2 separate regions of the Homo sapiens genome follow, and region 2 is linked to region 1. The links come from fine-mapping of genetic effects on gene expression. A gene starts in region 1. The other region holds a variant in brackets. All regions are shown on one strand. Distances are from middle to middle.

Evidence for each region. PIP is the estimated chance that this variant, and not a neighbour inherited with it, causes the effect.
Region 2: its variant is fine-mapped to the expression of UTP18 in whole blood (TOPMed, PIP above 0.99).

Annotation. Positions count from the first base shown.
Region 1 is chr17:51,258,737-51,262,998 of GRCh38, reverse strand. It overlaps UTP18 (UTP18 small subunit processome component), which reads right to left and starts at 2,453. Exons shown (of 14, transcript NM_016001.3): 1 at 2,073-2,453. The coding sequence starts at 2,414. MBTD1 (mbt domain containing 1) reads left to right here and starts at 2,950. Exons shown (of 17, transcript NM_017643.3): 1 at 2,950-3,164; 2 at 3,793-3,856. RefSeq lists an enhancer at 1,383-1,432 and silencers at 1,903-2,092, 2,443-2,552, 2,893-3,212.
Region 2 is chr17:51,304,632-51,308,893 of GRCh38, reverse strand. No RefSeq gene overlaps it. Among named protein-coding and RNA genes, the nearest start is that of LINC02071, 28 kb to the left of the region's middle. The variant T/C (reference allele first, on the strand shown) is at 2,596.

The DNA.
Region 1 (4,262 bases):
AACAAAAGATGAGTCTGCAGATGAAAAAAGGAGGAGAAATGTCAGAACTACAGAAATTACAGGACCGGAGGCAAACTAGAGTCAAAGATATCTCCATTTTCCCAATCTGTTTTTGACCCCCTACCTCCTTAAGAAACTTTATACCAGCAGAGAGCGCAATGCCTCATGCCTGTAATCCCAACACTTTGGGAGGTCAAGGTGGGAGGACTGCTTGGGCCCAGGAGTTCGAGTCCAGCCTGGGCAACATAGGGAGATCTCGTCTCTACAGAAAATTTTTAAATTTAGCTGGGTGTGTGGTGTGCACCTGTGGCCCCAGCTAACTACTTGGGAGGCAGAGGCAGGAGGATCACTTGAGCCTAGGAGGATGAAGCTGACTTCTGAGTTTAAAGTGTTCGGAGAATTGTGCAGGTGTAATTTATCTGTGACCAACAAGAAGAGCAACCAGTTACTATTAGCAAAAGGGAGATGGAAGACTAATAGGTGCCGCTACACTCCAGTCTGGGTGACAAAGTTAGACCGTATCTCTAAATAAGTAAAAAATAAATATACCATTAAATCTAAATTCTAAAGTTATAAATTTATACCATAAAGTTTATACTATCAAATCTAAACCTAGGCCGGGTGCGGTGGCTCACACTTGTAGTCTCAGCACTTTGGGAGGCCGAGGCGGGCGGATCACGAGGTCAGGAGTTTGAGACCAGCCTGGCGAAGATGGTGAAACCCCGTTTCTACTAAAGATACAAAAAAAAATTAGCCAGGCGTGGTGGCGCACGCCTGTAATGCCAGCTACTCCAGAGGCTGAGGCAGGAGAATCGCTTGAACCCAGGAAGTGGAGGTTGCAGTGAGCCGAGATGGCGCCACTGCACTCCAGCCTGGGCGACAGGGCGAGTCTAAAAAAAAAAAAAAATCTAAACCTAGACCACAGAATATCCCTTGAAGTGAGTTTGAGCTTCCCAAAACCAATGATAGAAATGTCCAAGTGGTTTCTACTTGCTCTACTACTAGTCTAATAGCCTTCAAACCCAACAGCTCCCACCTCCGTACACTGTTCCTTTTCCAGACGACAAAACCGTCGCACAGTTCAGCATGTTTCCAGTAATAGTTCTGTACTTCCCAAAAAGATTGCTGCCACTTCTCCTACAAGCACCCGAAGGCGGCTCTGGTAAGCAGCTGACATTAACTAGGTCAGCATTTGTGTAATAAACATGGCCTGGGTAATTCTCGGTGAGCTTTCCTCTGCCCCCTTTATCTAAAATTTCACAGGCCTCTACACACGCCCATCTCCCTTTCCCGAATGTCCTTTTTTCTCTTCAGCACTTGTCACCAACAAACCTGAAGTTTACTCGTTTATCTCCTCTATCTTGTCTCTGCCACTAGCACACAAGCGCCAAAAGGCAGGGATTTTTGTCAGTTTTGTCCATTGCTGTGTCTCCTCCAGTGCCTAGAACAATGTCCGGGACTCTCTCAAGAAAAGCCTGGTATAGAATTTAAAGGGATAGCAAAATGTGTGCAAAAAGTATGATCAATCACGCAGGGTTTGCCATTGCCAGAAAGGGTATCTGGCAACTAACAGGTTCACCAATATTTGCTAAATGAACGGAATACACGATCATTCTCAAAACATGGTGGGTCTCATAGTCACATGGGGACATAGTTACAACGGAGATGCCCAGGCCCGTGCCCACGAATTGATTCCATCAACGAAATCGAATTCCTGAATCACAAGGAACTGAGGCAGGTGATCAAAAGACCACCCTCAGTTTGGGAAGAGGCTAGCGGAGTCGAGCAGCAGCGAAAGATGCTCACGACCACAGTTCGCAAAGCAGATACCCGAGCAGCGGCGCCTCCAGGGGCGGAGAAAGACGCGGTCCCCGCCCTCCAGGCACTTTCAGTCTGGAGCAGGGAGGCGAGGGACCCGCAGCTGCGACCCTCCGCGCCCGCGTTCTCGGGCTCCCTCCCACCTGAGCGCTCCCCGCCGCCGCAGGTCGCCCAGGCTCCGCCCCCCGGAGCTTCACCGCCCACCGCGCGCCCCGCCCGAGTGCGCCCAGCCCGCGCGCCGCGGCCTCCCTCACCCTCGGGCCTCGCAGACGCCGCAGCAACGCGTCCTCGTCGTTCTCGACGTCGCCGAAGACCAGCTCCTCCAAGCACCGCTCCACGGCCGGTTTGTCCTCCTCCAGCCTCAGGCGGTTCCGCTGCCGGAGCCGTCTCTCTTCCTCCGCCGCCGCGACTGCAATCGCAGCGGCCGCCGCGCTCGGCCGGGCCGGCGGTTTCCGCTGGGATGAAGGGGCAGGCTTTTGGGGAGGCCCGCCTGGCCCCGCTCCGGCTTTCCAGTCCGGCCTCATTCCGGGCTTCCGCTTCGGCTTCGCTCCGGTTCTCCGGTCCAGTTTCATTCGTCTCCTCCGCTCCGGCGGCATCGTTAGGTTTGAGGAGAAACGCAGGCGCTCACGTGGAACCTCGCTGCGCATGCGCCCAGGCCCCTCGCGGGCCGCCGCCGCCGAAGCCCCGGGGGCCGGAAGGAGCCTGCGCAGCCTCTTGCCACGTGACCAGCACTCCCTCCCTCTACGTAACTCCCGCTCCCCTACCCAGCCCCGCCCCGTGTGGGAGTTCCTCCGGGAGGGCCAATCTTCCGGGTGTAGGGGGAAGCGGCGTGACTGGAGTGGAAAATTTTTCCAACACAATTTCGCAGCTGCAACATATTGAAAGGAGCGCAAGAAACCCCGACTATACACTGGGACGGCTGAATGGAACTTCTGCTTTTCCTCTTGGCTGTAACCACTTGACTTGACACAAGCCCCAATACGCTTTCCACCCTTCGTCTTGGTACGGTCCTTGGAGTACGGAGCCTGCAGAGGGTCCCACGGTGGAAGCGAGAGAGGAGGGTATGTAGGGAAGTGGGCCAATCGGGGCGCGGGTCACGGCGCAGGCGCGCTGGGGAGGGAGGGCTATGCTAATGTTGTTGATATCCTGGGGCCACCCGAGTTAAAGGGGGGAAATCCGGGGGCTGCTGCACCCGCCACCGGTCTGGGCCCAGCCGGGGGCCCCCTGTAGTCGCCGCAGTCCCGGGGAGAGGCACCTGCCCCCAGCCCGGGGAGGGGGCGCCGCGGGCTCGGGGAGCACGGACAACCCCTACCCATGAGGCCCTGATGGAAAACACAAAGGATCTGGTGAGAGCCGAGCGCGGCAGCCGCTTTGTGTGCCAGGTGGGGGGGACGCCTGCAGCTCTCCGACCCCAGGAACCCCGCAGCTCCCTGACCCCGCTCCCTGGCCTGCTTCTCCATCCCACGCCCTCTCAACCTCCGGAGCCCCCCTCCCCCTTCCAGCCGTTAAACGATTCAGGGGTTCCCCTCCCCCCACCCCGTCAGCCTTGGACTCGTTGGGGTTCTCTCCATCTCCTCCACCCTTTGGAAGAAAAATTCGAGAAGAAAGTTTTTCTCTGCGTCCTGCCCCCGCCCCCTGCTCTGGCTAGGGGGGAAAGGCTGGATCCGAGACTTTTCCTTTTTTAGCCACCCAGGGTGGGAGAGTGGAGTAGTCCTCTCTTCTTGGCGGGGAGGGGGAGCACAGTTTCGTTGCTTTGCAGGGGAAGGTGTCTATCTGCCTTGGGGGCAGTGCCGCGAGGCGGTTTGCACGTGGAGGTGGAAATATTGAAAGGGGGCGGGGTGGGCACGTGCGGGAGAGGTGGGAGTGGTGTTTGGGAAGCAGCCTCCAAGGCTGCATATTTAAAAGGGTTTCAAGTCGGTGGACTTCTGTGACCATTGCGTTCTCCTTTGTGAAATAAGAATCCTAACATTTCAGAGTCGGAAGAGACATTAGAGGTCATCCAAAGCAGCCGTCCCCTCTGCAGCCTCTCTGACAAGTGGTAGGTAGTCTGAACCCTGCTTACACCCCTAAAAGCACTGAGAGCTCACTACTGCCCAGGAAAGCCCATATTTCAGTAGTTCTAATTGTTGTCTGCCTACCCTTATTAGACCCTTCAGTCTCATTCATGTCCTGGTTAAGTTGCTCCTTTTTTTACTTCTCAAATTTTCTCTCACATCCTCCTCACCCACCCACTGCTCATTGGCCTATATTTTGTGTGCCAAGAAAGAACAGCAGGGAAGTGGAGGAAGGGGGGTTGAGAGATAGTGAGGGCTAGCCGAAAACTTTGCTGGGTCAGTGTCAAGTGTGCTGGCTTACATGCCTGAAGATGTTTTTCTACAGGAAGCTAAAGAATTACAATATGGGAATTTCGTGCCTGTTTTCTCTTAGGAGTGCATCTTTTTGAA
Region 2 (4,262 bases), 46 kb before region 1:
GGCTGTTGAATTTTGTTGAAGGCCTTTTCTGCATCTATTGAGATAATCATGTGGTGTTTGTCATTGGTTCTGTTTATGTGATAGATTACATTTATTGATTTGTATATGTTGAACCAGCATTGCATCCCAGGGATGAAGCTGACTTCATCGTTGTGGATAAGCTTTTTGATGAGCTGCTGGATTTGGTTTGCCAGTATTTTACTGAGTATTTTCACATTGACGTTCATCAGGGATATTGGTTTAAAATTCTTGGGGGACTCCCTCTTTTTCTATTGATTGGAATAGTTTCAGAAGGAATGGTACCAGCTCCTCTTTGTACCTCTGGTAGAATTTGGCTGTGAATCCATCTGGTCCTGGACTTTTTTTGGTTGGTAAGCTATTAATTATTGCCTCAATTTCAGAGCCTGTTATTGGTCTATTCAGAGATTCAACTTCTTCCTGGTTTACTCTTGGGAGGATGTATGTGTCCAGGAATTCATCCATTTCTTCTAGATTTTCTAGTTTATTTGTGTAGAGGTGTTTATAGTATTCTCTGATGGTAATTTGTATTTCTGTGGGACTGGTGATGACATCCCCTTTATCATTTTTTATTGTGTCTATTTGATTATTTGATTCCTGGTGATATCCCCTTTATCATTTTTTATTGTGTCTATTTGATTCTTCTCTCTTTTCTTCTTTATTAGTCTTGCTAGCAGTCTATCAATTTTGCTGATCTTTTCTAAAAAACAGCTCCTGGATTCATTGATTTTTTTGAAGGGTTTTTTGTGTGTCTATCTCCTTCAATTCTTCTCTGATCTTAGTTATTTCTTGCCTTCTGCTAGCTTTTGAATTTGTTTGCTCTTGCAGATTCTCTAGTTCTTTTAATCGTGATGTTAGGGTGTCGATTTTAGATCTTTCCTGCTTTCTCTTGTGGGCATTTAGTGCTATAAATTTCCCTCTACACACTGATTTAAATGTGTCCCAGAGATTCTGGTATGTTGTGTCTTTGCTCTCATTGGTTTCAAACAACATCTTTATTTCTACCTTCATTTCATTATTACCCAGTAGTCATTCAGGAGCAGGTTGTTCAGTTTCCATGTGGTTGTGCGGTTTTGAGTGAGTTTCTTAATCCTGAATTCTAGTTTGATTGCACTGTGGTCTGAGAGACAGTTTGTCATAATTTCTGTTCTTTTACATTTGCTGAGGAGTGCTTTACATCCAACTACGTGGTCCATTTTGGAATAAGTGCGATGTGGTGCTGAGAAGAGTGTATATTCTGTTGATTTAGAGGGGAGAGTTCTGTAGATGTCTATTAGGTCTGCTTGGTGCAGAGCTGAGTTCAAGTCCTGGATATCCTTGTTAACCTTCTGTCTCATTGATCTGTTTAATATTGACAGTGGGGTGTTAAAGTCTCCCATTATTATTGTGTGGGAGTCTAAGTCTCTTTGTAGGTCTCTAAGGACTTGCTTTATGAATCTGGGTGCTCCTGTATTGGGTGCATATATATTTAGGAAAGTTAGCTCTTCTTGTTGAATTGATCCCTTTACCATTATGAAATGCCCTTCTTTGTCTTTTTTGATCTTTGTGGGTTTAAAGCCTGTTTTATCAGAGACTAGTATTGCAACCCCTGCCTTTTTTTCCTTTCCATTTGCTCGGTAGATCTTCCTCCATCCCTTTATTTTGAGCCTATATGTGTCTCTGCACGTGAGATGGATCTCCTAAATACAGCACACTGATGGGTCTTGTCTCTTTATCCAATTTGCCAGTCTGTGTCTTTTAATTGGGGCATTTAGCCCATTTACATTTAAGGTTAATATTGTTATGTGTGAATTTGATCCTGTCATTATGATGTTAGCTAGTTATTTTGCCCATTAATTGATGCAGTTTCTTCATACCATTGATGGTCTTTACAATTTGGCATGTTTTTGCAGTGGCTGGTACCGGTTGTTCCTTTCCATGTTTAGTGCTTCCTTCAGGAGCTCTTGTAAGGCAGGCCTGGTAGTGACAAAAATCTCTCAGCATTTGCTTGTCTGTAGAGGATTTTATTTATCTTTCATTTATGAAGCTTAGTTTGGCTGGATATGAAATTCTGTGTTGAAAATTCTTTCCTTTAAGAATGTTGAATATTGGCCCCCACTCTCTTCTGGCTTGTAGAGTTTCTGCCAAGAGATCCGCTGTTAGTCTGATGGGCTTCCCTTTGTGGGTAACCCGACCTTTCTCTCTGGCTGCCTTTAACATTTTTCTCTTCATTTCAACCTTGGTGAATCTGACAATTATATGTCTTCGGGTTGCTCTTCTCGAGGAGTATCTTTTTGGTGTTCTCTGTATTTCCTGAATTTGAATGTTGGCCTGCCTTGCTAGGTTGGGGAAGTTCTCCTGGACAATATCCTAAAGAGTGCTTTCCAACTTGGCTCCATTCCCCCCGTCACTTTCAAGTACACCAATCAAACGTAGATTTGGTCTTTTCACATAGTCCCATATTTCTTGGAGGCTTTGTTCATTTCTTTTTACTCTTTTTTCTCTAATCTTGTCTTCTTGCTTTATTTCATTAATTTGATCTTCAATCACTGACATCCTTTCTTCCACTTGATCGAATCGGCTATTGAAGCTTGTGCA[T/C]GCATCACGAAGCTCTCATGCCATGGTTTTCAGCTCCATCAGGTCATTTAAGGTATTCTCCACACTGTTTATTCTAGTTAGCCATTCCTCTAACCTTTTTTCAAGGTTTTTAGCTTCCTTGCAATGGTTTAGAACATGCTCCTTTAGCTCGGAGAAGTTTGTTATTACCGACCTTCTGAAGCCTACTTCTGTCAACTCATCGAAGTCATTTTCCATCCAGCTTTGTTCTGTTGCTGGTGAGGAGATGCGATCATTTGGAGGAGAACAGGCACTCTGGTTTTTTGAGTTTTCAGCTTTTCTGCTCTGGTTTCTCCCCATCTTTGTGGTTTTATCTACCTTTGGTCTTTGATGTTGGTGACCTACAAATGGGGTTTGGGTGTGGATGTCCTTTTTGTCGATATTTACGCTATTCCTTTCTGTTTGTTAGTTTTCCTTCTAACAGTCAGGTCCCTCAGCTGCAGGTCTGCTGGAGTTTGCTGGAGGTCCACTTCAGACCCTGTTTGCCTGGGTATCACCAGCACAGGCTGTACAACAGTAAATATTGCAGAACAGCAAATATTGCTGCCTGATCCTTCATCTGAAAGATTTGTCCCAGAGGAGCACCCGCCTGTATGAGGTGTCTGTCAGCCCCTACTGGGAGGTGTCTCCCAGTTAGGCTACACAGGGATCAGACATCCACTTGAGGAGGCAGTCTGTCCATTCTCAGAGCTCAAACACCGTGCTGGGAGAACCACTGTTCTCTTCCGAGGTGTCAGACAGGGACGTTTAAGATTGCAGAAGTTTCTGCTGCCCTTTATTCAGCTATGCCCTGCCCACAGAGGTGGAGTCTGTAGAGGCAGTAGGCCTTGCTGAGCTGCAGTGGGCTCCACCCAGTTTGAGTTTCCTGGCCGCTTTGTTTACCTAATCAAACCTCAGCAATGGCGGATACCCCTCTCCCCACCAGCCTGCAGCCTCGCAGATCTATCTCAGACTGCTGCGCTAGCCTTAAGCAAGGCTCCGTGGGTATGAGTCCCACTGAGCCAGGCATGGGAGAGAATCTCCTTGTCTGCCAGTTGCTAAAACTTTGGGAAAAGTGCAGTATTTGGGTGGAAGTGTCCCGTTTTTTCCAGGTACAGTCTGTCACAGCTTCCCTTGGCTAGGAAAGGGAAATCCCCAGACCCCTTGCGCTTCCTGGGTGAGGCAATGCCCTGCCCTGCTTCCGCTCACCCTCCATGGGCTGCACCCACTGTTCAACCAGTACCAGTGAGATGAACTAGGTATCTCAGTTGGAAATGCAGAAATCACCCATCTTCTGTGTCGATCACTCTGGGAGCTGCAGACCAGAGCTGTTCCTATTCAGCCATCTTGGAATGAAAATTAGAGCTTTTATATATTTTTAGTAGTGAAACATTGTGTACACAATACATAATTACATAGACATATTAGGCATACCAGTAGAAGTACATCTTATAGATTCATAAGACCTACTTTTTTTTTTTCCTGTCTTAGACTTGCAAACTCTTCATAACCTGTTTCATTACCCTGGCAGTTGTCAGCTAAATTGCCTTAAATCTGCATATCGAAGGAAACAACTCTTAGGTGAAAAATCAGGTAACAAAATTTACATCTCAAGGTACAGAGAGAAAAAGTCTGGTGTTGCTAGAGGGAGATTAAAGATGGATGCCAAA